Regions from separate parts of the Homo sapiens genome. Here regions 2, 3, 4, 5 and 6 are each reported to be linked to region 1. The links are microRNA targets in miRTarBase. Many come from high-throughput screens and were not tested one by one. Region 1 holds a microRNA gene; each other region holds the end of a gene's coding sequence.
What was found. Region 1 holds the annotated microRNA hsa-miR-6792-3p (CUCCUCCACAGCCCCUGCUCAU, at 1,410-1,431, shown strand). A microRNA usually pairs through its seed, bases 2 to 8, with sites in the 3' UTR of a target mRNA and lowers its output. Matches are read on the target gene's strand: a 7mer-m8 pairs with bases 2 to 8, a 7mer-A1 pairs with bases 2 to 7 and ends in A, and an 8mer does both.

Region 2: the mRNA of GABRG2 is a reported target of hsa-miR-6792-3p. Seed matches in the 3' UTR shown: 7mer-A1 at 3,840-3,846.
Region 3: miRTarBase lists AGPAT4 as a target of hsa-miR-6792-3p. Seed matches in the 3' UTR shown: 7mer-A1 at 638-644, 8mer at 2,779-2,786, 7mer-A1 at 3,513-3,519, 7mer-m8 at 3,805-3,811 and 8mer at 4,061-4,068.
Region 4: miRTarBase lists IL5 as a target of hsa-miR-6792-3p. Seed matches in the 3' UTR shown: 7mer-m8 at 562-568.
Region 5: the mRNA of DMRTB1 is a reported target of hsa-miR-6792-3p. Seed matches in the 3' UTR shown: 7mer-A1 at 4,367-4,373, 7mer-A1 at 4,316-4,322 and 8mer at 4,257-4,264.
Region 6: the mRNA of SH3PXD2B is a reported target of hsa-miR-6792-3p. Seed matches in the 3' UTR shown: 7mer-A1 at 3,563-3,569 and 8mer at 537-544.

What each region holds. Positions count from the first base shown.
Region 1 is chr19:7,616,071-7,621,141 of GRCh38, forward strand. MIR6792 (microRNA 6792) reads left to right here and starts at 1,369; the gene lies at 1,369-1,435. CAMSAP3 (calmodulin regulated spectrin associated protein family member 3) reads left to right here. Exons shown (of 17, transcript NM_020902.2): 14 at 453-552; 15 at 1,256-1,368; 16 at 1,473-1,591; 17 at 1,682-2,234. The coding sequence ends at 1,987. XAB2 (XPA binding protein 2) reads right to left here. Exons shown (of 19, transcript NM_020196.3): 13 at 5,065-5,071; 14 at 4,776-4,966; 15 at 4,477-4,599; 16 at 4,205-4,376; 17 at 3,876-4,005; 18 at 3,677-3,786; 19 at 3,455-3,577. The coding sequence ends at 3,516.
Region 2 is chr5:162,152,845-162,157,915 of GRCh38, reverse strand. GABRG2 (gamma-aminobutyric acid type A receptor subunit gamma2) reads right to left here. Exons shown (of 10, transcript NM_198904.4): 10 at 2,390-4,823. The coding sequence ends at 4,548. Among named protein-coding and RNA genes, the nearest start is that of GABRG2, 88 kb to the right of the region's middle.
Region 3 is chr6:161,131,946-161,137,016 of GRCh38, reverse strand. It overlaps AGPAT4 (1-acylglycerol-3-phosphate O-acyltransferase 4), which reads left to right. Exons shown (of 9, transcript NM_020133.3): 9 at 383-5,071. The coding sequence ends at 477. Among named protein-coding and RNA genes, the nearest start is that of AGPAT4-IT1, 28 kb to the left of the region's middle. RefSeq lists a silencer at 4,846-5,071.
Region 4 is chr5:132,537,270-132,542,340 of GRCh38, reverse strand. IL5 (interleukin 5) reads left to right here. Exons shown (of 4, transcript NM_000879.3): 3 at 198-326; 4 at 432-896. The coding sequence ends at 530. Among named protein-coding and RNA genes, the nearest start is that of IL5, 3.7 kb to the left of the region's middle.
Region 5 is chr1:53,466,051-53,471,121 of GRCh38, reverse strand. It overlaps DMRTB1 (DMRT like family B with proline rich C-terminal 1), which reads right to left. Exons shown (of 4, transcript NM_033067.3): 4 at 3,634-4,527. The coding sequence ends at 4,460. Among named protein-coding and RNA genes, the nearest start is that of DMRTB1, 9.2 kb to the right of the region's middle. RefSeq lists enhancers at 881-1,418, 1,419-1,958.
Region 6 is chr5:172,333,814-172,338,884 of GRCh38, forward strand. It overlaps SH3PXD2B (SH3 and PX domains 2B), which reads right to left. Exons shown (of 13, transcript NM_001017995.3): 13 at 1-5,071. The coding sequence ends at 4,556. Among named protein-coding and RNA genes, the nearest start is that of UBTD2, 53 kb to the left of the region's middle. RefSeq lists an enhancer at 2,084-2,945.

The DNA of each region.
Region 1 (5,071 bases):
CAGCTACTTGGGAGACTGAGGCAGGAGAATCGCTTGAGCCTGGGAGGTGGAGGTTGCGGTGAGCCAAGATTGCACCACTGTACTCCAGCCTGGGCAACAGAGCGAGACTCCGTCTCAGAAATAAGACAAAAAAAAAAAAAAAAGACTTCCATAGGGATGTGGGGTGCAGTGGGATGAGGGGTCTTTCTTCTGTGGCTTCATGGATAGGAACCTTTGGGAGTATGTTTGGGGTGAGGCGTTGCCAGTAGGGGCTGACCCAGTGCTGCTCCCCACTTGCCTGCTGGGCAAAGCATCCTCCCTCATAGAGGGGTCCCCCCATAGGGGTGCTGCAGAGGGCCGAGGGGTCTTGGGCAGGACTGACTCCTCCTGTGTTCCCCCCACAGCCTGCTGGACCGGGTGTTGTGGAGGGCAGGGGCTTCTGGTGGGCACTGACCTGCAATCTCTGTCCCCAGGCTCTCGGCTGAGCAAAATCTATTCCCAGTCCACCCTGTCACTGTCCACTGTGGCCAACGAGGCCCACAATAACCTCGGGGTGAAGAGGCCCACGTCTCGGTGAGTTTAGCCCGCACAGGCGGGGTTCGTATGCCGGGTGGCTTCCCAGAGCCTGGGAGGTGTGTGGGCATCTGGGTGAACCTAGAGGGCGGTATGGCTCGAGTTTATGGATACGCCATGAAGAGATGGAGGGACGCGTGTGGGCACGTGTGCATGGGGCATAGTCTGTACCTGGCAGACAGGACTCAAGCATGTGCCTCAGTGCACTTGAGTGCCAGGTGTTCCTGTGGGAGGAGGACAGCACGGGGCACTGCATGGACTTGGGAGGGTGTGCAGTGTATACCGCCTCCTCTGCAGTGTGTGTGGCCCGCCTTTTTTTTTTTTTTTTTTTTTTTTGTTTTTTTGAGAGGGAGTCTTGCTGTGTCGCCCAGGCTGGAGTGCAGTGGCGCAATCTTGGCTCACGGCAACCTCCGCCCCCTGGGTGCAAGTGATTCTCGTGCCTCAGCCTCCTGAGTAGCTGGGGTTACCCGTGCCTGTAGAGACGGTGTTTCACCATGTTGGCCAGGCTGGCCTCGAACTCCCGACCTCAAGTGATCTGCCCGCTTTGGCCTCCCGAAGTGCTGGGATTACAGGCATGAGCCACGATGCCCAGCCGTGGCCCTTATTTTCCTTGGCCCCTCTGCACATAGGGAAGCTTCCCATCTCTGACCCCACCTCCATCCCATCCTGACCCCACCTCCATCCCATCCTTCTCCCACTGCAGGGCTCCCTCCCCGTCAGGTCTCATGTCCCCAAGCCGCCTGCCTGGAAGCCGCGAACGGGACTGGGAAAATGGCAGCAATGCCTCCTCCCCAGCGTCAGTGCCCGAGTACACAGGTAAGCAGGGGCTCTGGGTGATGTGAGGAGCAACAGGCACCCTCCTCCACAGCCCCTGCTCATTCCTGCTGCCCCCCACCCCCTCCCACTGCCTCACCCTCTAGGTCCACGGCTGTACAAAGAACCCAGCGCCAAGTCCAACAAGTTCATCATCCACAATGCCCTATCACACTGCTGCCTGGCGGGCAAGGTGAACGAACCGCAGAAGAATCGCATTCTGGAGGTGAGCCCGCCCACACGTGGGAGTTGGGGGCTGGTGGGTGGGTGGGTGGCCTGACTTGGCCAGCTGACCATTTCCAGCACTCCTGCCCAGGAAATTGAGAAAAGCAAGGCCAACCACTTCCTGATCCTCTTTCGCGACTCGAGCTGCCAGTTCCGGGCGCTCTACACGCTGTCGGGGGAGACAGAGGAGCTGTCGCGGCTGGCAGGGTATGGGCCCCGGACCGTCACGCCCGCCATGGTGGAAGGCATCTACAAGTACAACTCGGACCGCAAGCGCTTCACCCAGATCCCCGCCAAGACCATGTCCATGAGCGTCGATGCCTTCACCATCCAGGGACACCTCTGGCAGGGCAAGAAACCCACCACTCCCAAGAAGGGCGGCGGCACCCCCAAATAGCCCCACCCGGGCGGTCCACGGGCCGGGCCCTGTGTGCTGCGGCCGCCATCCCCTGGAGGACAGTCAGTCGGTATTCCTGGGTCCTGTCTGTCCCCAACCGTGTCTGGGTGGGGCTGGAGTCTCCACCCTCTGACTTTGAGTCCAGTCCTGCTGTGGGGGCTGAGCTGGGAGGTTCAGGGACTCAGGGCTCAGCTCAGTCCCCTTGTCTGTCCTCCCCCACTTCTTGAATAAAATAATTTAAAGAGAAGTTGAACCTTGTCCCCCCCTCCGAGGCTGGCCGGGGTCCCACACTCCCTGGCTGTGTTTTTAGTCTCCTGTTCTTTCTCAAACCAACTCCTGTCTTCAACCCCCATAATCCCCTAATGCAGCTTCAGCCAGGGCACTCCCAGCCCCCAGCCAGGGCTGTTTCGAAGCTGCCTCTGAACTGATCTCTCAGGCTCGAGGTGTCCCACTGGCCCTTCCTGTGGCCTTGGCCACCCCCGCTTGCTGGATTCTCCTGGTCTGTGTGGCTGTTGTTACTGGCCCTAACCAGCGTTTGGCATGGGGCCAACTTCTAACTTGATCTTGTCTCCCCTGGCCAGCCTGGTGTTTCCAGGCCTGGCATCTACCTCTGGGCCAGTGATTCCAGGTTTCTCTGAGATCTGTGTTTGACAATCCAGTTGCCCCCTGCCATTGCCTGGGTGTCTCTCTCAGATGCAAGGCCTGCCCTGCAACCCAGGCTGGCACTGGCTTCCCAGCTGCCGCCCAGTTCTACACAGCTCAGCCCTCCCCTCCTGTCTCACTCGCTTCTCTCCAGCCCTGTCACCTCCCTGCAAAGTCCAAGCCAATGGCCTGGGCCTCCCCATGTCCCCAGCTGCCTCCTGCCCACACAGCAGCCTGTGTGACCCGTTCGAAGCACAAATCTGATTATATCCCTTGATACTTAAAACCCCTTAATAGCCTACAGCCCGCTAATGGCTTCCCAGGCTTAGGACTAAGGACCACGCCCTGGTCCTGGGCCGTGCACAAGGTCTGGCGCCTGGCCCCCGTCCAGGCACAGAAACGCGTTACTAATCAGTTCCCAGAGCTGGGCCAGAGCCTGCCTGACTCCAAGACTTGAGGGCAAGGGCCAGTCCCTAGTGGGGAACAGACAGTGGGTGCCACCCCAGGGAGGCGGCAGCTGCCTGGGGCCACAGAAGGGCTCTGAGAGGCAGGGGCTGGCGAGACCTGGGCAGCCAGGGGCTGGATTGCCCTTCCCAGGCTACAGAGGCTCAAGGAAGTTTCCGGGCAGGACCCACTCCAAGGCCCCAGGCAGCGGAGGGACTGGCCTCTCGAGTCCAGAACTGGCTCTGCGGGGTGAGGCCGGGCAGTATCTGGCCTGGGGCCCAGCCGCCCCACCTCCCACAGCAGCCAATCCCGGCCCAGGGCCAGGCACTCCTGAGCTGTACTCCCTCGGGCACCTGGGCAGCAGGAAGGAGGCTCAGACCATGATGTACAAACGTAGCTGTATTGGGGAGGGGGTGGGGAGGGGGGATGGGGGAGGGACGGGTCAGTCTTCCTTCAGGCTCCCAAACACTGCGGCTGGCACGCTCTGCTGCTCCAGCCGAACCTCTGTGGGGAAGGCGGGAGCCAGTCACCCTCCTGGCGTTGGCCTGTCCCCCGAGGCCCACCCTGGTAATGCCACCGTCCCCGCCCCAGCCGGGCCCTCACCGTTGGGCTCCAGGTCCATCTCGTCCTCGTCCTCGTCCTCGCCCAGCTGGATCTCCTCGGGGTTGACCTGCTGTGCCAGCTCTGCCAGCTCCTCCCGGGAGGCGTCACTCCTAGGGACGGGCCATGCTGCCTCAGTTCCCCACCCCGGGCCCCCTTGGGACCTGTCCCAGTCCTGTCCCGTCCAAGGATCCGCCCTCACCTCACGAACAGGATCTTGCTCTGGGCGCGCAAGGGCTGGTCACGCTCCGCCTCAGCCGCCAGCTGCTCTGCCCGCTGTTCCAGCAGCTTCATGTCGTCCATGCCACTCTGCCCAGGGGCCAGGTCAGACACTAGGGGGTGGGAGCAGGGGGTCAGCGCCACGGGGGCCCCTCCCACACATCGGACGTTGCACTATCCCAGTCCCCCAGGTGATGGCCCAGCCCTCAAGGAGATTGCCATCAGGATCCGAGGCTCCCAGACCCGGAAAGCCCAGGTCAGGCCGGGCTGAGATGCCCTGGATCAGGAACTCAGCCAGCTGGGACGGCTCACCGGTGCCCGTGGCACTGCCCGAGACCTTGAGCATCTGCGAGGCCATGAAGTTGACCTGCGTGTTGTACGTGGCCTGCACGCTGCGCCGGATACGCAGCATTTCCTTGATGGTGTCCTCATTGCCATGCCGGACCTCAAAGTCCTTCCACGTCTGCCAGAACGCGCCGGTCGTCTGCGTGGGGGGCAGGGCAGGGGTGGGTGTGTGTGCCCGTGAGCTGGCTGACTCCGCCGCAGCCCCCAACCCTGATACCCGTCCCTCCCCACAGCCCTACCCGGGGGTCACAGATCTGGGAGCAGAAGCTGTAGATGGCCCGGGCGCGGTCAATCTCCCCGAGCTTGCACTCCATGTCTGCAAACCGCAGGCACATCTCACGCGCGTGCTCGTCCGACAGCACCTGGACACCGGGGTTGGGGAGGCCGGGAGTGAGGCCGGGGTAGCTCGGGGGCTCCCAACACACCATGGCCATCCCTGTGCTTCCAGAAGGCTCCTCCTCAGCCCCTCCCACCTGCCTGGACCCCTTCCGTCTGCTCAGGGACCTCTGGCCCCGGCCCAGCCCCCCACGGTGGGTACCTCAATGGCCTTCTGGTAGATGCCGCGGGTGTGGGTGACCCCATAGATCTCGGCCGCCCGCTTGATGTAGATGTTGAACATGTCATACTGCTGGGCGGGCTCCACGGCCCTGGTGGCACGCTCGTACACGGCCATGGCATGCCGGGCCAGGCCCCACTCCTCCTCCAGCTGTGCGTACAGCAGGTACAAGGCTGGGCGGGGTAGGCGGGGAGAGGGGAGCACGGTCAGCCGGGGCCAGTCAGAAACCCAGCCCGCCCGCCACCCCCCCCATGCCCTCTGCCCGCCTCACTCTTGGC
Region 2 (5,071 bases), not on the chromosome of region 1:
GTGATCGAATAAAAATCTGCTGGAGAAAAAGGGGCCAAATTCCCTTGTTTACGTAAGAAACTGAATATCATCAAGATAGGAATATTTGGAAATCCCCAGATGTTAAATGAAATTTCTATCCCCGGTCCAGTGACTTTTTTTTTTATGAGAAAAGAGAGTCCTCACAAATGATGATCAATATTTTTAAGCAAAGTAGATATGGTTCTTGTACCCTGTATTTTCTGAAACTTTATATCCTTACTGAGGAAAATTACTAGCATCCAGTAATTCTTTGGTATTAACTAAGTTTCTCCTTATAATAAAGTCTGAGATACACACCAATATTATCTCCATTTTTCAGGTGAGAAAACTAAGGCAGACAAAAGTTGACAGGGCTGATATTTGAACCTAGTTAATCTGGAGCAAGAGCCTCTGCTTTTCCAATTAGTTACACAAACCATAATTAGAGGAAACTATTTCTTTATTATCCAAAATGTGGCAAAAGAAAGTTACAACTGGATTTTGCAATTGGCTTATAATCTGTAACCTTAGAAAGAATCATAATAGTTAGGTCATTCCCCACCACTTTGCTTAAATAGTAGAAAGAATGAGCCTGCAGATCCTAGCCATGGAAACTTTTTGGTTGTCTACTGCCACATATCCCAAAGGACAAAGGCTAACTCTAGGTCTGGAGTTGTTTAGATGTTTCTTTGAAACAGCATTCTGAAAGCAGTATGGGTAATATTAAATATCAATTGGTCATTTCACATGAGAAGGAATAAAATAAATACAAAACCCATTGACTTCCCTCTGTTACTAGGTATTCTCAAATTCCTGTCTCATTGCAATAAAATGAGTCAAAGTGAGGCTTAGATCAAAGAAGGAAAGCATCCTGCAGTTTGGCAGATCCTAAAATATTAACAGAAAGATAAAGTATTCCAGAATTTTACTTCTAAATTCTGAAATACTGTGAGACACAGTGGAAAGAGCAATGCTTAGATGACCCCCTGATCTGTCATTAACTAGCTGTGTGACCTTTGGCAGTTCACTGAGCACTAGAAAACATAGCCGAGCTCTTGGTCTACGTCATTCCCCCATATTCTACACCTTTGACAAAGATTCATAGTGACAAAGCATAGAGATAGCAATTTTTGACATAATCCCTGAAGACCACATCATTTTGTTAACTTAATTTGACCTTCATTGCAGACAAAAATTTTTGCTACTAGTCAGAATAATATTGAGACTTAATGCAAGGAATGAAGGCCATATAAAGATATGAATTCAGCTAAAGTTCAGGGCATTGAGTTAGACAGCAGACAACATCTAAGTGAAAACTATATTTTTATAGGTTTGGAAGGTGAGAAATAGATGATTAAATTAGATGCAGGAAGATATGAGGGGCCAAGAGAATGGGGCCAAGGATGGTTAGGGCAGCTGTGTTGTGAAGATAATATTATATTCCTGGGAGAATTTCAAAAGAGTTCAAGAAAACATGACATTGTCTCTGGAGTAGGGCTAATCAACTTTGTATGTTTGTAAATTTTGAGGGTACAAATAACAGTTCTTTGGCCTTAAAAATAACTAATGTAATGTGTAAGTTTTTTTCCAATGAGACAGAAATTTCCCACATATAGTTTAAAAGACTTGCAATGCAAATATTTCCTAAAAATAAAAATAGAGTGATGTAGAGTCACTTAAAGGCTTATATGCCTAATGCTGGATTCTATTAGGGAAGCTAGTTTGATAGGATGAAGGGAGCATGACAGCAGTGCATGGAAGGCATCGGAAGTGAGGGAGAGAGCTTTTGACCATTTGTTGAGTGTCACTACATAGGTTAGCATTGGTATATCTAATTTATAGCTGCTAAAATGGAGACTTCTAGCTGGGCATGGTGGCATGCATCTGTAGTTCCAGCTATTCAGGAGGCTGAGGCAGGAGGAATGCTTTAGCTCAGAAGTTTGAGGCTTCAGTGAGCTATGACTGTGCCACTATACTTCAGACTGAGTGACAGAGGGACACCCCATCTCTAAACAAATAAACAAATACATAAATTATTTTTAATGGAGGATTCTAAAGTCTGAATTGACAATTGTCTAACAACTGGTAAATAGTAAAGCTGGGATCCCAACTTTGTCTGGCACTGGAATTAATGTTAACCACACCGAAATTCTTGAGGTAGAGAAGACTTGAATTTTTACTTACTTTATTACATGTCTGCCTTTCTTCTTCACTCTACAACCCACATGCCTCTCTTAATTTTTTTGAGGTGAAGAGTACCGCCATGCAAAACACAGTCACACAGCTCACAGATAAAGCTCACTGAGAGGGGATTTGGGGAAATGAGGCAGGAAAGAGAGGTCACAATCTCTAAGACAAACAGTCCCACCAGACTACTGAGATGCCACCATGGATTAGAATGCAGCATTTTTATTGTAAAAGTCCACATGTTAGGCAATTCCCTTTGTGAAAAGGTTTCCAAATACATAGACAGGGAGCAGCTTATAATAAGTATTAGATTATATATAATATATATTCATATTGCCAATACTATGCACACATTGGAAAGCTAGCTTTTTGTAGTGTCCCCATTACAGAACACATTTCAAGTTGACAATAATGTTTCTCACCATTGAAACTTGCCAACAACTCTCCCAAAGAGTCAACATTTAATATATTGACAATTCAAAACAAGAAAATAATTCGTTCTATTTACATTTGTTTGAGGTTATATACTGGAGCACTGATATATTAAAGGTTTGTAAAACTGGCAGCTAAATGTGTTTCAAGATTCATCCAGATGACTTGATGATGACTTTACATGGTTTTATACTGACAAAGCCACTCTCTCTTCTTTTCTATTCTTTTTAGGTTATCTGTAAAGTTATACTAGCTATGATTTAATTATGACAGAGTAATAATTTCCATAAAAATAATTAACAAAGGGTGCTATTTTAGAAAAATAAGGATTCAGGATGAGTACATGAAGATAGAGCTCAACTCATCATGTTTTAAGTCTGGAGAAATTGCTTTGTTTAACTACAATGTAATCTAATGAGGCCACAGTCATTGGCTCAACCTCTATGTGAGTCATTCATTTTTTTTTTTCAGTTTTTAAAAGCTAATCTTCAATACTTTTTCGCACAGAATGCTACATTCTGAACACTAGTCAGGTATGAATTTTGCTTATTCCTGTTATAAGTTCACAAACAAAATTGTGGATGGGCAAGGACTGACTCATCCCCAAACCTGGAAAAATAATACACAAACTCTAATTATGCCCTAGTAGAGTCATGTCTATACACAAACATAGGACATAAATATTGTTTTAAAAGGAGTATGGACTTTGCCTAAAATAATTTTTTGAAGATGAACATAAATAGCTAAAGTTCTTTGGATCCTACTGGTTATTTTTACAAAATCAAATATCACTTGACAACACCTATGTGAGAAGATGAGTCACTGGTTTCAGGCCAGCACAGAGATTTGCCAGAAGCATGTGAGGGCAATTCACTTCAAACCATATTTATTGAGCACCAACTATATGCCAGGCACTATGCAAGGTGCTACAGACCCAAAGAGGAAATGACAAGGATTCTGCCCACAAGGCACTCACAATCACTAGAAGCAGATCTTGAGATGGAGAATAAGTTCTGTTATGATCTATCATCCTAAAAGGAAGAAAAAAATAGCGGCAAGCACATACAATTACTTTATACTCTAGTTATGAAATTGGGCATATTTAGAGGTGGCAAATGTTGATTATCCAGTCTATATTTTACTTAAAGTGTTGTAATATGTCATACAAGGAAAAAATAAGCTGTTCGAATCTTCATGCATGAGGGAGAAGGCAATGAAAATTCCTCCCTCCATTTCCAAACCCAAATCCTTATAATTACATTCAGGAATCTTTTATAGCCCAAGGACACAAAATAAAAGACAATAGGATGATAACTTCAGTCCATTTATTTTGGATCTAAAGAGATGCATGCACTAAACTTGAAGCATTCTAAGTTATTGAAATATTTACATCATTGTACATGAATGTGGAGGAAATTTTCTTCCTATCTTGAGATAAAGGTGTAATAGATTTCTGGACTAGGCTTTCATATTTAAAGTGAGTTATGATTTTTCTTAAATGAGGGAGGTATTCTATTGGGATCAAATTTATCACAACTTGACCCGGAGTGAACATAGGGTACAGTTTTGGACCTTTTCTATCTAATTGCATTATGAATCTAGTAAGGATACCACTACTGTAAATAGTCAGGGCTTTCACTGTTTTATTTGCTGTAGCTGAAAAATATCTTATTTGGTTTGAATGTTCTTGCTCTAATTTTACTTTGCCTTGCAGGTTTGAAACACAGCAAACATCGAAGTTCAAAGTACACTAACCAAAGGAGGGCTGGGCACAAACAATATGACATTATAAAATTTACCAGGTTTGGACATAGAAACAGATTCAGATCATTATCAACCACATAGAGGATTATTTAAGTGGACTTAGAACAGACATCTCTCCATGAGACTCAGTGAATAAGAACCATATCAGTAAAACCCATACCTCCTCACAGGTAGAGGTAGGAGACCCAATAGACCAGATTAAACAGGCAGAAGGCAGTGGGGAAGAAGATCCGAGCATAGGAGTCCATTTTGGCAATGCGGATATGTATCCTCCCATGTCTCCAAGCTCCTGTTCGACAATCTTCAAAACAGCAGAAAAAACTGGCACAGTCCTTGCCGTCCAGACACTCATAGCCGTACTCTTCATCTCTCTCTTGAAGGTGTGTAGCATTATTCATTTGAATGGTTGCTGATCTTGGGCGGATATCAATGGTAGGGGCCTGGGACGAGGGTAGGGAAGGAGAGGGATCAGTTAGTTGTTCTCGAGAGATCCTAGGCTGTTTTTCCACAATGTCACCAATGTGATGATGAATCTGAAAATGGGTACTCAGGAAATTGCTATGACATCATGATCTACAATGGTAAAATTGAACTTAGAAAGATAGCACATTTGCAGATTTCAAATTTTGAGCTTAAGCAGTGCAGCTGAAAATAATATCATCAAGCTAATAGCTATAGCAAGGAGATT
Region 3 (5,071 bases), not on the chromosome of region 1:
ATAAAACTTCGCTGAACATGCCCTGTTAACTTCCTGTCCCTTATTCACAAAAGAATCCTCTTTACCTGGGGGTCAGCAGAGGAAGCCAGGGATTTCTCTGAGTCCCTGCGAACGGCTGTGCATGGCTTGCCAAATCATTCACCTTCAGGGTCCAAGGAGGAAAACCCCCACCAGAGCAGCCTTGCTTTGTCTTAATGTCACATGGATGTCCACACTCAAGGATGATTGTAAAGCCGGCAGGATGATGGCACCTCAAACCCGCCAGCCAGCTCTGAGCTGGCGCTTGTGATTTGCGGCCACGGGCCTTCTCACTTGCTCTGTGGGAAAACGGCCCTGTAGTCTGTTTGGGCTACTCCTAACTCTGCTCTCCTTGTCTCTGCAGCCTCCGTGGGAGTTCGATGGATGATTGGTGTGACGGAAATTGACAAGGGCTCTGCCTACGGCAACTCTGACAGCAAGCAGAAACTGAATGACTGACTCAGGGAGGTGTCACCATCCGAAGGGAACCTTGGGGAACTGGTGGCCTCTGCATATCCTCCTTAGTGGGACACGGTGACAAAGGCTGGGTGAGCCCCTGCTGGGCACGGCGGAAGTCACGACCTCTCCAGCCAGGGAGTCTGGTCTCAAGGCCGGATGGGGAGGAAGATGTTTTGTAATCTTTTTTTCCCCATGTGCTTTAGTGGGCTTTGGTTTTCTTTTTGTGCGAGTGTGTGTGAGAATGGCTGTGTGGTGAGTGTGAACTTTGTTCTGTGATCATAGAAAGGGTATTTTAGGCTGCAGGGGAGGGCAGGGCTGGGGACCGAAGGGGACAAGTTCCCCTTTCATCCTTTGGTGCTGAGTTTTCTGTAACCCTTGGTTGCCAGAGATAAAGTGAAAAGTGCTTTAGGTGAGATGACTAAATTATGCCTCCAAGAAAAAAAAATTAAAGTGCTTTTCTGGGTCATCTGTGGTGTATGTTGACATGGACCGCTGCCCCTCCATCCTGCCCTTGCCCGTGGCTTTGGTGTTTCAGATCCTACTCACGGGAGGCAGCTGCCGCGGAGGTGTGGGCAGCTGAGAGGGGTGGGCAGGCCAGCACAGCTCCTGGCAGGAGACACAGGTCCAGGAGCCCGTGAGCATTTGTGAGAGCAGAGATGGCAAGCACGTGCGTGGAGACCAACGAAGCGTGTCCCTGGCACACAGCAAGGGAGAGTTTCGCTCGGTCTCTGCAGTGCAGTCTCCTGGCGTAAGTCTTGAAGATGGACCCAACTCCCTGAAGAAATGGATCTTGAAATTGAACACAAACATCATGAACGTACAGCCTGGGCATTCTGCAGTGATTTGTGAGATGAGCTTGCATCGACTGTTCCTCTCAGCAGTGACAGCCAAAGTCACCCCTGATAAAATGCAGTTTCACTTTATAAAATGCCTCGCCCCTTCCCAGCATGTAGAGCTTGTCTGCAGCCCTAAAGGAGCCAGGTCCTGCTCTGATGAGGGTCAAATCAGAGCCGACATCCCATGTACAAAAAACCCCCAGGCTTCTGCCTTCCTTCCGGGCTCCTGTCTGCTCCCATTTTACTCCACGGAATAGTTCTGCCCTGTAGCATCTCCAGCGGCCTTTGCAGACTGCTGTCAGCCAACAGGTGCCAAAAATGCAAAAGAAGAAGAAACTAAAAGCAGTGCTATTTTTGCAGAACAAATGCTAGCTATTAAATCATCTTAGGCCAAGACACCAATGGCACTTGGACCGATAGGTATTTGGAGCATGAGTTAGGAAGGATATGTCTTTCTCCAGGTGCGCAGCTGAAAGTTGCTGAGAAAAGCTGCCTGTGTTGCTGTGGTAACATGAGAAGGAATGAACAGCTCTATACAAAAACTGGCCACACATTATAAGGCCTATTCTATGCAGTTATGTTTTTGGCTATTTGCTCATTTAGTCATTGTTTATCAACCAAACTAGGTAAGCCAAGGAGTTACAAGACAGCTCTAGAGAAGCTCCCTCTGCTTACAGGACAATAATGCATTGTTTGTTTGTTGATACAAATGAATTATTTGAATCCACAGAAGTGAAAAAGGGAAAAAATCCTGGCTGACTTGTGGGAAGAGCGTACTGCAGAGCCTAGGGCCTGAGTTAACTCGCTGGCGGCCCTGCAGGCAGGCTTGATGGGAGCGCCCAGCACATCTGCCCACCCTGCACAGGGCATGAAGCACCGTGTGCAGAGATCTGTGGGCAAAAGCCCAGGACGTGACCTTAGGCAAGAGGGGTCCTTGGAGAAGTGGAGGTGTGCATGGTGTGTAGCCTTGCGTGTCTGTGAGCACGCCCTAGTGGACCTGCGCCTGGATTATCGGGCCAGTCTCTCGGAGGGGTCCGTGATGCTGAGTTACGCCATTCACCTGAACTCTGCAGCTCATCGGCTGTAGGATTTGGGTGAGACACTTTTCCTTGCTGACTCATTTCCCCATCTGCAAAATGGGGGTGACGATATCTACCTCTTGGGGTGTGTCAAGGGTAAAAGAGCACACTTTAAGAATCCTAAAGCACTAAGCCAAGGATGAAAGACTAGAAAGCTGCCTCTATGTTGCTACTCTCAAAAATGCTCAGAAATTTTCTTGTCGTACTAAAAATGTGTTATTTTTCTCATTTTCATTCTTCCATTCAACACAGAAGTAATCTAAGTAAGTTCTAAAAACATAGATCCGGGGGCCCACAGACATTCAATTTTCTTCTGAATTGGCTCTGGTATCACACAACACACAAGCAAGCAAACAGCCTGCCTGCTAGGGCCTTGGGTTCCAGGCTGGAGGAATGCAGGCAGAAATCTCTTAGGAAATAACTAAGTGAGCGCCAAGTTTTGAATTGCCTTAGAGCCGAAAGAGAATGTGGCGTGCTGGGGAGAGATCTGGACCTCTTTCTCATCAGTCATTTGACCTGTCCACGAAGAACAATTTTGTTATGCAGCCTGGGAACCTGGTTTCCTTACACCCTGCGCCCTTAATGACACAGACAACCACGGGTACTCCTGGACGGAAGCTCATCACGCCTCCTCAAATACCTTCACCCATGTTCAGGTCACACGGAGGTCACCATCTCCTCAGCACACAACAACTGCTTTGGTTCCCAGGGTTATTTTTTCTACGAGTTGAAAACCCACGGAGCCTAAGCCATCTTTTTGTCCCCTAAGGAGAGCCCCATAGACTAAGAGCTACACTTCCTGTCTGTCTTTCCCACCTTTCCATCTCATTCTAGCTTAAAGCTTATCACGCTACTGAGAGCCTGTTCTGTAGTTCAAGGTGGCAGAGAAAAATACGAACCTTGAGTGAAATCTGGAGAGCAGTGCAGGGTCATCCCCAGACGTGACGGGCCATATCCTAGGCGACTCCTGCAGCTTATAGAAGCAGGGAATTTAATGGACTTCTTCCAGGAAAGCCAGCCCACGGGGACTCTTAAAAAGACACCAACCATTTGGAAGATGCAGCTTGAGGTCTGGGGGACTGGACTGATTCTGCCACCATATAGTGAACACGATTAATCGGGAGGAAGAAGTAAGGCACTCTGTGAGTTAGTCTACCACCCTATTGACTTTGACAGAGAGAAAACCAACTTTTTTCATATGATCACACAGTAGTACTGGAATATCTCGACTGCAATATCCTCTAAACAAATGCATGCAAAGCTTTGTAAAAGCAGCTGATGATTAAAAAAATTTTAAAACATTAGGGTTTTTCTAATATATCCATATGTGGGACAGTGATTTAAATGTCATTAATTGTCCAGCCACAACTTGTAACAGTGATGTGAAAGACACAAAAAAGGCCCCACTGGAGTGGAGGAGTGGTCTGGCTGGTCCCCAAGCAAAACAGAATGGGCTTCGCATAGGCTTTAGAACTTATTCATAAATATTGACCAAAGTGTGAAGCAAGGTATCCAGTGAAGATTCTCTAGGGTCTCTACTTCTGCTCAAGAGATTTAATCCAGCTTTCTCTAAAGCAGTGGTCCAGACTTGCCACATACTAGGTTAAAGATAAAGTGAGAAAAACAAATACTTTGGTTTGCACGTCTCTTGAGGGGCCCTAGGCTGTATGGAGGAATATTTAGAGGAATATTTGTGAGCTGCCATTTGTGTTTAAAAGAACATGAAAGCAAGACGGGCCCTAACCCGCCTGTGTCTGTAGCTGACCAGGAGGCCACTGCTTCCTTCCCCCAGAGCTTCTAGGAGAGCCCCCCAAAATGCAACTCTCCAAGGTCCTGTGGAGTAGTCCCCTCATAATGCCTCCACCACACCTGTGTCTCACGATGCCTTAACTGACGTAGCTCCTAAGTGATGTTCACAGAGAAGGAAATACTTAGGCAAGCCCATGTGTAACATGCTCACAGATGTGCTGGCTTTGCCAATGCTTTCGGACTCCACCATGCTTTCTGATTCTTCTGGTCCTAGTCACGCCTTGGCACGGGGCAGAAGCGGCCGAGCTATGCTGACAGGTGCTGCTGAGAGCCAACAGCCATTCAGCCGAGAAGGCGTTTCTAGGTGAGGGCATGAGAGCTGGCATTCCAGGCTGCTGAGTGCGGCATCTGCAGGTGCACCACATTGCTCCACGGTGTGTTCAGAAGAGACCAGCATCTTGAATCTCAGGCTCTGGGCTCATTCTTTGCCTCTGCCAAGGGACCATTCAGGGGCTTCAAGCCAGCTGCTGAAAATCCCCCTTTTCTGGATTTTTCCCCATCTATATAAGGATATGGTGGCTGTGTGGACAAGAAATTGGTTTCATCTCAGAAGGGTGCTTCCCTACAAAGATCTTCAGAAATTTAATTGAAAACAATTTTTTGAACTTTTTTTGTTTGGCCAGGATGAATGAAGCTGAAGTCACATCCTGAATGTGCATGCCAGACAAAGGGTAAGCAAGCAGTCTTTACAAATGCCAATCCCTCTGCACTCCAAAACCGGAGCCCGTAATGAAGGCCCAGGTTCCAGTCATCACAGGATCCCCCAAGCCAGCACAGTGCCTGATGCCTCCCTAGGCATTAGCACATCCCAGCACTCTAATTCACATCCTCAGCATCCCTGCCTCCTGCATCCAGGGCTTAGGTTGAGTG
Region 4 (5,071 bases), not on the chromosome of region 1:
ATACCACAAAACAAAGCCTAACTTTGTGGACCAAAATTGTTTTAATAATTATTTTTTAATTGATGAATTAAAAAGTATATATATTTATTGTGTACAATATGATGTTTTGAAGTATGTATACATTGCAGAATGGACAATGGACCAAATTTTTATACCTTGTCTTGATTATTTGCATTTTAAAAATTTTCCTCATTTAGCACCAACTGTGCACTGAAGAAATCTTTCAGGGAATAGGCACACTGGAGAGTCAAACTGTGCAAGGGGGTACTGTGGAAAGACTATTCAAAAACTTGTCCTTAATAAAGAAATACATTGACGGCCAAAAAGTAAGTTACACACATTCAATGGAAGCTATATTTGTCTGGCTGTGCCTATTTCTATGGAATTGACAGTTTCCTGTAATACCTATTGTCATTTTTCTTTTTTCACAGAAAAAGTGTGGAGAAGAAAGACGGAGAGTAAACCAATTCCTAGACTACCTGCAAGAGTTTCTTGGTGTAATGAACACCGAGTGGATAATAGAAAGTTGAGACTAAACTGGTTTGTTGCAGCCAAAGATTTTGGAGGAGAAGGACATTTTACTGCAGTGAGAATGAGGGCCAAGAAAGAGTCAGGCCTTAATTTTCAGTATAATTTAACTTCAGAGGGAAAGTAAATATTTCAGGCATACTGACACTTTGCCAGAAAGCATAAAATTCTTAAAATATATTTCAGATATCAGAATCATTGAAGTATTTTCCTCCAGGCAAAATTGATATACTTTTTTCTTATTTAACTTAACATTCTGTAAAATGTCTGTTAACTTAATAGTATTTATGAAATGGTTAAGAATTTGGTAAATTAGTATTTATTTAATGTTATGTTGTGTTCTAATAAAACAAAAATAGACAACTGTTCAATTTGCTGCTGGCCTCTGTCTTAGCAATTGAAGTTAGCACAGTCCATTGAGTACATGCCCAGTTTGGAGGAAGGGTCTGAGCACATGTGGCTGAGCATCCCCATTTCTCTGGAGAAGTCTCAAGGTTGCAAGGCACACCAGAGGTGGAAGTGATCTAGCAGGACTTAGTGGGGATGTGGGGAGCAGGGACACAGGCAGGAGGTGAACCTGGTTTTCTCTCTACAGTATATCCAGAACCTGGGATGGTGCAGGGTAAATGGTAGGGAATAAATGAATGAATGTGCTTTCCAAGACTGATTGTAGAACTAAAATGAGTTGTAAGGCGTCCCCTGGAAGAAGGGCAGTGTGGGAACCTGTAACTAGGTTCCTGCCCAGCCTGTGAGAAGAATTTGGCAGATCAATCTCATTGCCAGTATAGAGAGGAAGCCAGAAACCCTCTCTGCCAAGGCCTGCAGGGGTTCTTACCCCACCTGACCCTGCACCATAACAAAAGGAACAGAGAGACACTGGTAGGGCAGTCCCATTAGAAAGACTGAGTTCCGTATTCCCGGGGGCAGGGCAGCACCAGGCCGCACAACACTCCATTCTGCCTGCTTATGGCTATCAGTAGCATCACTAGAGATTCTTCTGTTTGAGAAAACTTCTCAAGGATCCAGAAAATATGCTCTTTAAAATATTTTAAAACTGATATAGACCCAAAGGAGAGACCCTCCATTCTCTCTTTCTTTCATTCAACAAATCTGTATTGATCACAGGCTCTCTGCTGGGTGTGGGATGCAGCTGTGGGCCTGTGCTGGAGGTCCTTAGAGGCCAGTACTCCTATCCTGGGCTTTATCTGCATGGATTGCTGCAGTGTTGGGCTCCACTGCTGTGTGAAGCAATTGCTCCTGCTCTTTCTGGGCATGGGAGAAGGGTCAGAGCAGTCGGACACAGATTCCCAGGCAGGAGAATGGAACTCCTTCCGAGGAAGAAGACGTGTTTTCCTTCCAGCACACACCCAGGCATGGTGGTCAGGACCGTGGACCAGGTCCCCAACTTGTGCATGCACCAAGCCCCAGGATCAGGAGCAGAGCTAGTGAGGGAGCAAGATGGATGAGGACAGCACGGTGCTGACCACTCTAGACAGACAGGAGACAGGAAACAGGAAACTCAACTTGCAAAAAGACTGAATCTCAACTTGATTCAATTAGGCAGATACTGAGTTCCAGTATACTCCAGGACTATTCTAGGGGCTAGGATTCAACAGTGAATAAAACAGACAAAATCCTTTCCCTTGTACACTTATATCCTCTCAAAAAAGCTCCTTTCCCCTCTTTCTTATCAGGGTCTAATATAGTTAATAAGGACTTAAGACTGGAATATCACATCTAAATCCCCAATAATGAGCCCTCACCAATCTGCCAGGTCCCAGAGAAGCTAAAAACAATCAGGGCTGTTTGCAACTAACTGAAATAAAACTTGATTCGAACTCATGTCAAGCCTGTTGACAACACACACACATGTCCACGTGTCACTGCTGTGCATAGAAACCTCTGACTCACTACCATCTGAAGTCCAGGCTCCTTCACAGGTCATTCAAGGTCGACCTCTGCCCCCTCTGACCCCTGACATACAGAAATACAGGCATCATCCATGTAACAACCTTGGCAAGAAAACATTAACCAGGTGCCTCATTCCCATTATTTTAAGTGCGAAAAATTTTAATGCATTATGTCTCAACCCAAAATCTTCAACCAACTTCTTAAAACATAAAACATAGTAAAATGCCTGTATATAAGGAAAAAACACATTAGGGTGTAAAAATTTAAACAAAATATTTTGTATTTATTTATTTAATTGTAGTAAAATAAGGATATAAGATATTTAAAACAGTACTTCCTGATCACTCAGCAGTTAATATAATGGTTGCTTTGTCTGTATAACATGCTGCACGTCCCCTTAGTTAACATTCAGAGCCTTTCCGATTGTCTTCTGTGAACGCTGATTTGCTACTAATCATATGTGGAATAAACCTAAAGACTTTGTCCATTGACTCCCCTCATCACTTGGTTAAAGAATTTCTTATGTTTAGGGGACATAAATATTTTTACAATATAAATATTGGTGGGAAAGCATTGTATTGAGAGACACGTTCTATGAAGAAGAACTGTATGTGGAAAACATTTATTGTGGAGATGTTCAGGCCAGGCATGGTGGCTTATGCCTGTAATCCCAGCACTTTGGGAAGCTGAAGCAGGAGGATCACTTGAGTCCAGGAGTTCAAGACTAGCCTGGGCAACATAGCAAGATGTCTCTACAAAAAGAAAGAAAAGTAGCCAGGCGTGGTGGTGCACATCTGTAGTTCCAACTACTCAGGTGGCTGAGGTGGGAGGATCACCTGAGCCCAGGAGGTGAGGCTGCAATGAGCTCTGATTGTGCCACTTTGGGCAACAGTATGAGGCTGTTTAAAAAAAAAAAAAAAACAAAAAAAACAAAGAGATGATCTGTAAAGAATGCTAGCTCTTATTCTTCACAGAATATCCATGAATTTTCATACCTCTGTGCCTTGGTCCACACTATACCCTCTGTCTCAGTATCTTTTTTCTTTCCCACCCAACAAACTTGTAATTGCCCTTTAGATGTTTTCATTCACCATATCCTCCTTCTTTTTTTTTTTTTAGAGACAGGGTCTTGCTCTGTCACCCAGGCTGGAATGCAGTGGCGTGATCATTGCTCACTGCAGCCCTGAACTCCTGGGCTCAAGTGATTCCCCTGTTTCAGCCTCCCCAGTAGCTGGGGCTACAGGCACTTACTACCATGCCTAGTTAATATCTTTTAAAATTATTTTGTAGGGATGGGGTTTCACTATGTGACCTGGGTTGGTCTTAAACTTCTGGCCTCAAGTGATCCTCTCACTCTGGCCTCTCAAAGTGCTGGGATTACAAGTATGAGCCACCACACTGCCCTCTTTTTATTTTTATTTATTTATTTATTTATTCATTTATTATTTTTTTCGAGATGGAGTCTCACTTTGTCACCCAGCCTGGAGTGCAGTGGCATGATCTCGGCTCACTATAACCTCCACCTCCTGGGTTCCAGTGATTCTCCTGCCTCAGCCTCCCGAGTAACTGGGACTACAGGTGCATGCCACCACACCCAGCTAATTTTTATATTTTTAGTAGAGACAGTGTTTTACCATGTTGGTCAGGCTGGTCTTGAGCTCTTCACCTCAAGCAATCCACCTGCCTCAGCCTTCCAAAGTGCTGAGATTATAGGTGTGAGCCACCGTGCCCGGTCTTTTTATTTATTTATTCATTCATTTATTTATTTATTTTTTGAGACAGAGTGTCACTCTGTCACCCATGCTGGAGTGCAGTGGCATGGTCTCAGCTCACTGCAAGCTCCGCCTCCCAGGTTCATGCCATTCTCCTGCTTCAGCCTCCCTAGCAGCTGGGACTACAGGTGCCCACCACCACACCTGGCTAATTTTTTTGTATTTTTAGTAGAGATGGGGTTTCACCATGTTAGCCAGGATGGTCTCGAGCTCCTGACCTCATGATCTGCCCATCTCAGCCTCCCAAAGTGCTGGGATTACAGGCATGAGCCACCGTGCCTGGACTGTTTTTATTTTTTTAAGAGATAGAGTCTTGCTATGTTGTCCAGGCTGGACGCAAACTCTTGGGTTCAAGTGATCCTCCCATCTCACCCTCCTGAGTAATTGGAACTATAGGCAAGTGCCACCATGTCCAGCAGTTTTTTTAATCTCAATGTACCTGCCTGTGGCCAGCTGACCTACTGCTTTCATGGTCTCATATCATTGTGTACATTTACCATCAGGATCACGACATAGAGAGAGTAAAATGCACAGGCCTATAAATGTAACGAGCTGTTACAAAAGTTTCAAAGCCACAGGAAGGTTCTACCAGGTGCTTAGAATGTTTATTCCATTTATACAACAAAGAACTAGAAAAACAGTTCCAGAGTATAAAAGACTCAAGCCTAGGAGTCTCCATGTTTCACTTGTCCGATGGAAGTCCCATTCTTACCAAAGAATCATGGCAGATTTAGGTTTTCCTGGTGTCAGTATTAGCTCAGACCTCATATTTAACAATGTTTGAAAAGTTTGGGTATCTCCTATACTAGTGTGTACTTATCCTGATGAATGGCTCCAGATCGCTTTGGTAAAGGATTAAA
Region 5 (5,071 bases), not on the chromosome of region 1:
GGGAAGGAATGCAGGGCTTGGCACACAGTATAGTTTCAACGAAAGCTGACTTTCTGACCCCTCTGTAATGTCCCAGCAAACAGAGCAAAAATGTAAGGCAAAAGATACCGCAGTAGGTGGCCAAAGGCTGGGCCAACTGAACCCTCCACCCGGAAAACCACACATGCCCTGGATTCACGCATCCATTGGCAACATGCACTGGGCTAACCAGGGCCAAGCCCCACATTGGAAGTTGGGGACAGAGGCTTAAGAGCCCTTGCCACTGCCTGCAGGACGTTCCCGGGCCTGTGGGAGGGGCATCTACTCAGTGGGGTCAGCGGCCTTGACGGAAGGCAGCAGCGGGCAGGGCAGGCCCCACGAGCTCCTAACCCACGCTGAGGCTGAGGCCCGGTGTCCTGAAGAAGCCGGCGCCGGAACTAAGTCTGAAAGGACAATAGATGACTAGGTGAAGCTGGAAGGAGTCTAGGCAGAGGACTGTCCACGCGCAAAAGTGCGGAAAGGAAAGAAAGCGGGCGAATGTGCTATGGAACACGAGGATGGGGGTGGTGTCTAAAGAAAAGTTAGGAGGGCATGGATGTCACAGGCAGGGCTGCGCAAAGACAACTCGCTGAAGTTGGCGATTGCATAGCCTAAACTAGAGGGAAATTCCTAGTCTCCGGGGTGCGCTCCAAGCCCGCCGCTGCAGAAACCTATTCCTCCAGCCCGGCGAGCAGAGGCGCAGCGACCGGCCCACATGCTCCTAGTGGGAGGCCGGTCCCTAGGCAACAGGCCCCGGCCCCGCCCGCAACTGCTGCCGTCGCGCCCTCTCCCGGCGGCGCCCTGCCAGGGCACCGGGGTCAGGGAATGACGGCTGGTTGCCTTCCAGAACATTATCCCGGCCATCTGGGATGAAGAGTGCTGCCCCTGGCGGCCAGTCTCTCGGCTTTCCATCCTTTTTCTGCCTGGACCTGGACGACCCCAAGCCCTCCAGGAACTGGGCTGGGCCAGCCAGTGAGGGAGAGGCTGGAGAGGCCAGCAGGCAGGTCCTTATTATTATTATTATTTTTGAGATGAGGTCTTGCTCTGTCACCCAGGCTGGAGTGCAGTGGTGTGATCACAGCTCACCGCAATCTCCACCTCCCAGGTTCAAGCGATTCTCCTGCCTCAGCCTCCCGAGTAGCTGGGATTACAGGTGTGAGCCACCATGTCCGGCTAATTTTTGTATTTTTAGTAGAGATGGGGTCTTGTCATGTTGGCTAGGCTGGTCTCGATCTCCTGACCTCAAGTGATCCGCCCACCTCGGCCTCCCAAAGTGCTGGGATTACAGGCGTGAGCCACCGTGTCCGGCCAGAGGGAGCAGGAAGGAGCCACGGAGGGCTTGTATGCAGAGCAGCAACATGAGCAGAACTGGTTTTTCAGTGCTCATGCTGTTGCTGCTGGAGGCCTGCCTGGAGGAGCTGGGCATTCAGGGATCATGGCTTGGGCTGCCTGGCAAAGCTGCGGGGAGCAGGGGTCTACCACCTACCAGGGGAAGTAACCGCAGTGAGCCCACAGGGGCAGGAAAGGGCAGGCTGGGTGCTCACAACTTGGGGTTCATACCGGGGAAAGGTAGGAAGGCAGGCCTTCCTGAAAACCAGTAAGCCAGGGGGCAGCACTGGGACAAGCCCCTGACCCCCAGTTGGTCTTTTCACCCCAGCAGGTGCCTCCAAGGCTCCAGGAAAGATGCCGACCAATTTCTGGAGATTCATCAGCTCACAGGCCTACAGGGGAAATGAGAAATCCTCCCATCCTGGAGTCGTGTGAGCATCAACCCCTCCAACAGGACATTACTCTTCTCCAAAGACCAAAGCCTCCTATCTCCCCACAGGCTAACTAAACAACCCATTTCCTTGCATTGGTCTGGAATAGTTGTGGTGTCCATGTGGCCACAGAGACTGTTTCATACTTCTGCGTGTGTGCTGACCAGAAACAGGAAAGCAGCTTTATTTGAGTAGTGCAACTTGGTTGGAAAATCTTTCAAAATGTGGAGTCTAAGATAAAACTTCAAGTGTTATGAAAAAGTAAGGTTACCAGCCAGGTGCGGTGGCTCACGCCTGTAATCCCAACACTTTCGGAGGCCGAGGCGGGCAGATCACAAGGTCAAGAGATCGAGACCATCCTGGCTAACATGGTGAAACCCTGTCTCTACTAAAAATACAAAAAAATAAATAAATAAAATAAAAATTAGCCGGACGTGGTGGTGGGCGCCTATAGTCCCAGCTACTCAGGAGGCTGAAGCAGGAGAATGGCGTGAATCCGGGAGGCGGAGCTTGCAGTGAGCCGAGATCGCACCACTGCACTCCAGCCTGGGCGACAGGGCGAGACTCCGTCTCAAAAAAAAAAAAGAAAAAAAGAAAAAGAAAAAGTAAGGTTACCAATCCAGCCCCACCCTGCTGTACTGGCAGGTCAGGGGTTCAGTTAGGGCATGGTGATTGATGTCAAGTGCAACCAAAAGGCATGTCTTCTCCCACCCTCTCAGGGTCCTGCAGCACTGTGGTCCCCAAGGGGAAGACCAGCACTGGGGTAAGTGATAGCTTCAGCCCCCAAGCCAGGGTAGTCCCAAATCACCGCATCATCCTGTCCAGGCTGACACCAGTGCTGACCTGCAGACCTCAGGCCTCAGCATGCGTGGTCTGCCCTGCTGAAAACACTCTTATGTCTGTATAGCAGTAACTGAAAAGTTCTTGTGACAGTGCCTGCCTCCAGTGCCTTCCAACAAAGCCCAGGCCCTAGGCCCCAGCCACCACACTGACGTAAGAGAATAGTTAGGGTATCACTTCTCAATGATCCCCCCACTACCTATCCCAGGACTTAGGAGGATGCCTGGACACCTCTGCCCACAGGCAAAAAAGGAAGTAAAGTTGACCTGTTCTCTTGGGTGCCAGCCCTTCCCTGGACAGAGAACAGGACACTGCCCTGACCATGGAATCCTTCACACCAGGTCCCCATCCTCCTCTGCATCCTTACTGGGAGTACTCATCTCTTTCTTCTCTGCCTAACTCATTATTGCCCCTTATGTTGTGGTTGAGGCCCTGACTCCTGCAGAAGGCTTTCTCTGACCACTCCCACAGCCTCCCTACCTCTCTGTTCTAGTATGAATCCCCTAAGACTCTCTGTCTCTCCCACTAGATGTCATGTTCCTCATGGGCAGAGCTGGGAACTGTCAAGTTCTGAATCTAGTAGAAACACAGGATGTTTTCTAAATGAAGGTATAAATGCAACCAATGGAAGAAGCCGAGGACCCTAAAACAGAATTGGTTCAAGTTCTGTTTTTTTAAATGCATGTTCCTATGCAGGGACTATGGAAGGAGCTGGAGGAAGGAAACTAAGACATCTTTACATTTTGTGTGTCTACATCAGATTTCCTTAAAAGGTCTCCATTGCTTAAAATAACAACAGTAATAATAAAGAAGTCTACTAGCCTGGCCCAATCCCCTCACTTGATAAAGAAAGGGGAGGTAGAACAGGGAGGGCAGGAACTAAAAATAGGAACTAAGCAAGTGCAGACAAGGCCAGCCACAGGCCACAAACCAAGGCCCCCAATCTCCCCAACTCAGGCTCCTGCCAACCCTACCTTCCACCAGGATCAAAGGGAGAATAAGCCTTCCACAAGGATTTCCATTGCTCATTTTATTTCAATAGCCAACTGTCCTCACAGAAGAAACTGTTCATGTCACAGGTGATCAGAAGCACCATTCTATTCCCTAGGGACTGCATCAGTGCTTATGAACAGCCTACTTTTTAAAGTTGGCAATCACTATAAAAACATCAAATAGTCAAACTAATAAATTTTTTAAAACCAGTGCCCATAATGGCTGAAACTTTATGGAGGGGGAATGAAGTAGCCCCAGCAGCCAGGATGCTTGCTAGTAAAACCCCTTAGAGGAGGGGCAAGGGGCTGTGGCCAGGAAGATGTGGGGGACAGAGCAGCAAGGCAGGATGCTGCAGAACCTGCTGTCAACGACCCTGGTCCTGGCTGCTGGCTCCAGCCACCTGGATGAACTGGAATCTTGATGTCTGTGGTGCCCCCAGCAACCTGGAGGACCAGGCAAAGGCAGCAGAAGGCTGAAATAGATGGTGCCTCCTGTCCTAGAGTGGGGCCTGAGGAAATCAAATACTGCCTCTGGGGCTTGTTCCAATAAATGGTAGTGTAACCCAAGGACAGTTAAATTCATTCCTAAATGGGAGCTTCTCCCAGCGCCCACTCCTCAGAGCCCTGGCCCTCCCCTGGTAATAGCTTCCTCCACACTCTTCTTCAACTGTACAGCGCAGGATTGAAACTTAGAAATTGCTCTCCTTCCTCCTATCTTAAACTGGGAATCAGTTGCCATCTATGCTATCAACCTCCTTCCTCCCTACATATCACTGAATGAAGACAAGAAAACTGTTGCTGTTGCCCCCCAGTGCCCCACTCTGCTGGCCAGGAGGGCGGGCCTGGGGCCTAGTCGGACTGCTCCTGAGACGATGGCTGGCTGGGCTCACCCGACAGTACCTCTGCATCCTGGTCATCTGTGAAGGACAAAGAAGGTAGCTGGATTTAGAAAGAGCGAAAATTACAACTACCTATTTGCAGATGAAGATTTTCTTTTTTCTTATTTTATTTTAATTTTTTTGAGACAGAGTCTCGCTCTGTCACCCAGGCTGGAGTGCAGTGGTGTAATCTCAGCTCACCGCAACCTCCACCTCCCAGGTTCAAGCAATTCTCCTGCCTCGGCCTCCTGAGTAGCTGGGATTACAGGCACCCGCCAACATGCCCAGTTAATTTTTGTATTTTTAGTAGAGACAGGGTTGCCCCATGTTGGCCAGGCTGGTCTTGAACTCCTGACCTCAGGTGATCCACCCACCTCACCCTCCCCAAAGTGCTGGGATCACAGGTGTGAGTCACTGTGCCCAGCCCAGATACAGATTTTCCATAAGCCTTTCTCATCATTCCCAGCCCTAGGGGAGAATGTATTTTCTTTAACTTGTTAGGCGCCAGGAGCCTGGAATCCTAGCCTTGGCCATGTGATTCAGATTCAAGTTCCAGCTCTTGCTCTGCTCGTCACAAGCTGGG
Region 6 (5,071 bases), not on the chromosome of region 1:
AGCAGGAAATGTGGGTTGTAATCAAGGTGGCCACAGTTTATCATCACCCCTCTAAGTGAAAGGGGCGCTAACAATAATTACACGGGCACAAAGGCATACATGGGCACACACTGGGGTAAAATGTGGACACCATCGTTGCATTAGAATTGCTTATTGCTGATGTAAGCCTGGTGGGGGCACCTTCTTTTTTACATGAATAGGACATCTAAAAGTGAAGGCTACCGACTGTGGCACTGCGTTTGGCCTCTTTGAGGACAGAAGAGGTTGAGCCCCTCATCCCTGATTGGAGCTAAGAAGGCTTACTTTGGAGTCGAGGATAGAAACGGGAAGATGGAATGTTGAAACATGAGGAGGAGCTCGATAACTTGGCAGAATAGCACCAGAAACCAGATGCCACCCCACGGAGCTGGGCAGTCCAGTCTGTAGAAAGGTGCTCTGAAGGAGGTCCATGAGCAGGCAAGGACTGTGGAGCCTCCGGTTCCAGCTCTGCAGCTCTGCCTGGGACCCTCGTGGAAACTTACTCTAGTTAGGAGCAATTCCTCCAGGCCAAGAGAGGGCGCCCTGCACCCTCAGGCCTCGATGCATGCTGCTCTACCTCTCATCAGCCCACAGTCTGACACGAGGTCATCTTTGGTCTGTGGTGAGGTATGGATGTCTGCAGTCTACACAACAGCCCTGCAGAACGGGCCTGGACAACCCTTGGGGGATAAGACAGCCACACATGGCTCAGGCTGTTAGGTGTCCACTGTCACAGTCCAAAGAGAAAGGTACGGCCTCCAAGGGGGCAGCTTAAGCCAACATGTAAGACTTGGGCACGATGAAAGGACGGGGGTCCAGCTACGAATGTTTTTGTTCTTGATGTCAAGTTGCCAGCTACTGGAAGGCAGGAGCAGTTTCTTCTTTTTCCCACTCTGTGCTGGGTACTTGGGAGAGGCGAAATAAATACCAGACTGTCCACTCCTCAGCCTAAGGTCCTTCTCAAGTCCTGGCACACTCAGCACTTGCTCTTTAACGTGGCATATGTTCCCCCATCTTCCACCTGGTAATGAAATCCTCAGTGGGCGCAAACATTTTAGGGCCAAGAACATTGACTTGGAAATTGATTCTATGGCGTGGCCTTGTGGCAGAGGTTTAAAATGACTACCGTAACCTGGCATGGGCTCCAGCGATCCCCCAGTAGGGAAGGGCCATTAAAAGCGGTTTAAGCTGGAGCTCAGCTCTCCCGCAGTCTCAGCTGGGACGACATACACCCACCAATGGCAAAGAAAGATTCCGAGCAGAACATGTGAGCAAAGGCCTCTTTTATCAAGAGGTGGTCTTAGACTCAGGGTTTTCCAAATTTTTGGAGGTACCGCAAGCTGTCCGTTTGCCCTGGGATGTAAGGTAAAGTAGTTGTCACAATTGTGTTAATAAGCAGGGGTGAGGGGAAGAAAAAAAAATCTCTGCCCACCTTTTGGGCTGCCATTTGGCCTGTGACCTACTGAAATGTGTGAGCAAGGGGCGGGGGGAAGAGGCACCGAAATTCAGAGGGAGGGTCACTTGATTCCCTGGAAGCCCTCCGCACACTTCCCTGCTAATGGCAGAGAAAAGTCATGGACACGAGGGAAAGAACAACAACAACAAAACCAAACAAACCCAAACTCGAGATCTCAGTCCCAGCTTGGCCACTATTTGGACCTTCTCCCTCTGAACCTTAATTTTCTCACTATAGATCAGGGCTGGTCCTATCCGCCTCACAGGCTTGCCGTAAGGATTAAAGGAGCGTGTGTGTTTAGGCACTGGTCACCAGCCCGGTGCTTGGCACCATTGTCACGATGGGCCTGGACACTTTCTAGAGCCATGACTCCAGGGGAGTTCTGCATATGCGCCATCAATCGCTCACAGAATAGCGACCACAGTCCTGGATGGGGTAAATCTAAGTCCCCAGGCAAGGACAGCTAGGAGAGTGACTGGCCACCCTGACCCACCCACTGCCTGGGGAAGTGTCTACCATTGTAGGAAAAGGAGCTGGATACAGACGTCCTCAGGCCATAGATATGACTCAAGGAGAGAACAGTGAACAGAGAGGACTGTGGCTTCAGTACCCGCGGGTCATGTCAGAATAATCATCATCATCATAGCAAAAGAGAATGGCAGATTCTTTCATTTGCAGGAAAACTTTCTGCCTAGAGGAAGGCAGGGCAAGTCTGCTCCTACCCAGCTGACCCCCGGGAGGAAGGAATGAAGCAAGAGAGAAACTCCTTCAGTGAAGTCAGCAGACAGGACTCAAAGCTCTTCCAGCCAGGGATGGAGCCACACACATCCCAGTCTACTCAGCACCTAGCACAGAGTAGACACTCACAAAGTATCTGAAAGCGTCGCTGAAAGGCAAAGAGCAAATCAGAAAAAAACATGTGTTTTGTCTTTTGAAATGCAGTCAAATCTCACATAGCTTCACAAAAGTTGTTTAAACCAAAGTGGATCAAGAACTCAGGAAAACTGCCATGGGGCCTCCTCTCAAGGGAGGGGACCCTCAAGCGGTGGCGGCCCTTCCCCACCTCCCTTCTTCCCCTGGCTGCCATCTGCCCCCAACGCTCTGGGCACAGGGCCAAGTGGCAAGTGGGCCCTGCCCAAGCCTCTCTGGGAAATGGGATTTGCAGGCCGACTGGACGAAGGCACTAAAGATGCTACAGGTGATCAGAGGAAGCTCCTCACGCAGAAGCAGCCAGCACCCACGTGATAGGGGGTGGAGCTGGGAGGCGCGGCAGAAGAGGGCTGTTCAAGCAAAACTTTGGCACTGCAGGTAGACACTGAGCATCCCCCCAAAAAACTGGCTTTGTGGGTCCAAAAGTATCTCGCCTGATGAACACTGTGAACTGGAGATCTCTGGGGCAGGGCAGGGTGGGGAGGGGCGGGGCAGGGCAGGGCAGGGCTGCCTCGGTCGGGTAGAATGGGAAGGGGTTCTGCTCTGCTCTCTTACTCTGGGCTGGGAGCTAGAAATGCTGGGTCCTGATTTTGCTTCTGCAGTGATTTAGTCATGCCTCTCCAGACCTCAGTTTGACAGATGACCACATCTGCCCTGGGTTTCTTCAAGGGAGAAAACAGATTTGGCAGTGCGTGAAAAAAGAAAAAAACATTACAAATGCCGGAGAGGCACAGGAAGCAGCTCTGCCTGGCCCTTGGTTACCTGCCTCCCTATGGGACCGCTGCATGCTATGCTCAGAGCCCTCCAGGCTGGCCCTCGAGGCCACCTCAGCTCCCGTTGCTCCATAAGCTCTATTCCCCAGGGGGCAACAGCTTAGAAGAGGGAACAGGGCTCTGTGTCAACCACCAGGACCCTGGCATTCTCCTGTCATGGAGATGCAGCTGTTGAGTCCAGGGCAGCCTTTGGTATAGGCTGCTGTGGGCTGGAGGGATGGTGGGTGTGGGAGCAGCCACGAATGCCCCCTCACCCCCCTCACAATGAAGCCACTTGGCCACCACTTAGCCAGCTTCTATCTCTTCCCTGCCTGGTTTGTCTTTTACAGAGGGGAGGGCACAGGCACTGAAGTCAGGCAGGCCTGGACTCAAATCCTCTTCCCTCTTCCTCCTGGCTGGTGTGTCCTTGGGCACATGGAGCGTGAATTTCCTCATCTATAAAGGGAGGTTGTGAGGGTCAAAGCATGAATGCAAAGCGCCAAGTACAGTGTTTGGCACCCACGAGGCACTCAGCAAAGGGGTGCTCACAAGGGCACGACTTGTGAATGGGCCTCTTATTCAAACAAACTTTGAGATTCTTGCTTTAGGTAGGCAAAAATGAAATGCTCCAAGTTGGGGTGGGAACTCTCATTGAAAAGCCCTGGAGGGACCGGAGCCTGCAGCAGCAAAGCGCAGCATACGCGGGGCTGGAACCACCCTTCAGGGCTGACCACGGTCCCAAGATAGAAGGTGGGAGGCAGGGCGGCTGAGCGGATCTCCAGGCCCACTCCTGGGGGAGCCGCATCCAGTGGAACCTCAGAGGCCCACGGGCCTGAGGCTTTGGGGAAGGGGACACTTTCCCTGGAACTGGTAATGGAATGCATTTCTTCAGGATGAAGTTCCTTCTGGTAGCAGGCAATTTAGGAGGAGTGAATAAAGCCACTGGGCTTTTAGAAACATGAAGAAGTTGGAGCAAAAGTCATCATGGACTGGGTTGGCTGCCCCTTACTGTGCCATGTCCAAGCCATGAGAGACCCTTGCTGGAGTTTCTCCAGGCAATGGGATCCAGTCCTGGAGGTCTTGGAGAGTCTTGGTCCCACTGCTGGGTGGCAATGCCATTGGCCAGGAGGAGTTCTCTTAAGGCAGGGATGCTGACATGGACAGAAAGCAAAGGCTGTGGGTTCTGAGCCTCCAGTGATGCTGTGATAGGAGGGATCAGGCCCAGGGGCGCCCGAGGTGTCCGAAACTCACTCTCCACCCATGGGAGGCAAGAAGTCACAGTACCCCAGAGTCTGTCTGCCTTGGAAGCTGCGTGGAGAATGATAAATTAAGAGGCGTATTAAATACGTGGGTAAAGCCAGCAAGGACCAGCGGGCCCTCTAGGCAGAAAGGGAGTCGGCTACGGCTTCTTTCTGAGATAGTTGGAAGGAATCCACCCTTCCCAGGAAGGGGCTCCGCTCAGGACCTGGCAGAACCACCAGCCACTGCTGTTCTTCTCCCGGACTTCAAACACTGTCCCTTCCTGGAAGCTGCTGGTGTCTTTGTCTCCTTCAAAGTCGGCCACGGCCACATACAAAGAGTCCTTCAGGCCGTCGGCATTGGGGACAGAGGCTGCAGCTGCTTTCTCCCTGTTTTCTCCAATCTTGCCGGTCCCCCATGGCCCCAGGCTGCCTTTGCCTCGCGTGTCATCCTGGCCCCCCAAAGAGTTGGAGAGAAAAGGTTTGGCTTTTGGAGGGACGAGGAGAGCACGGCCTGGGGTGGGAGCTGCCCTGCTTTCGTGGCCTTCACACTGTGGACCTCTGACCTCTGGGAGCGGCCTGGATGACGAAGAGGTTTTCTTTGGGGGAGGTGGTCTGCGGGGTGGGACCACAGGTCTCTGCTGGGGAGCCTCTTGGAGAGGAACAGGCACGCTCTT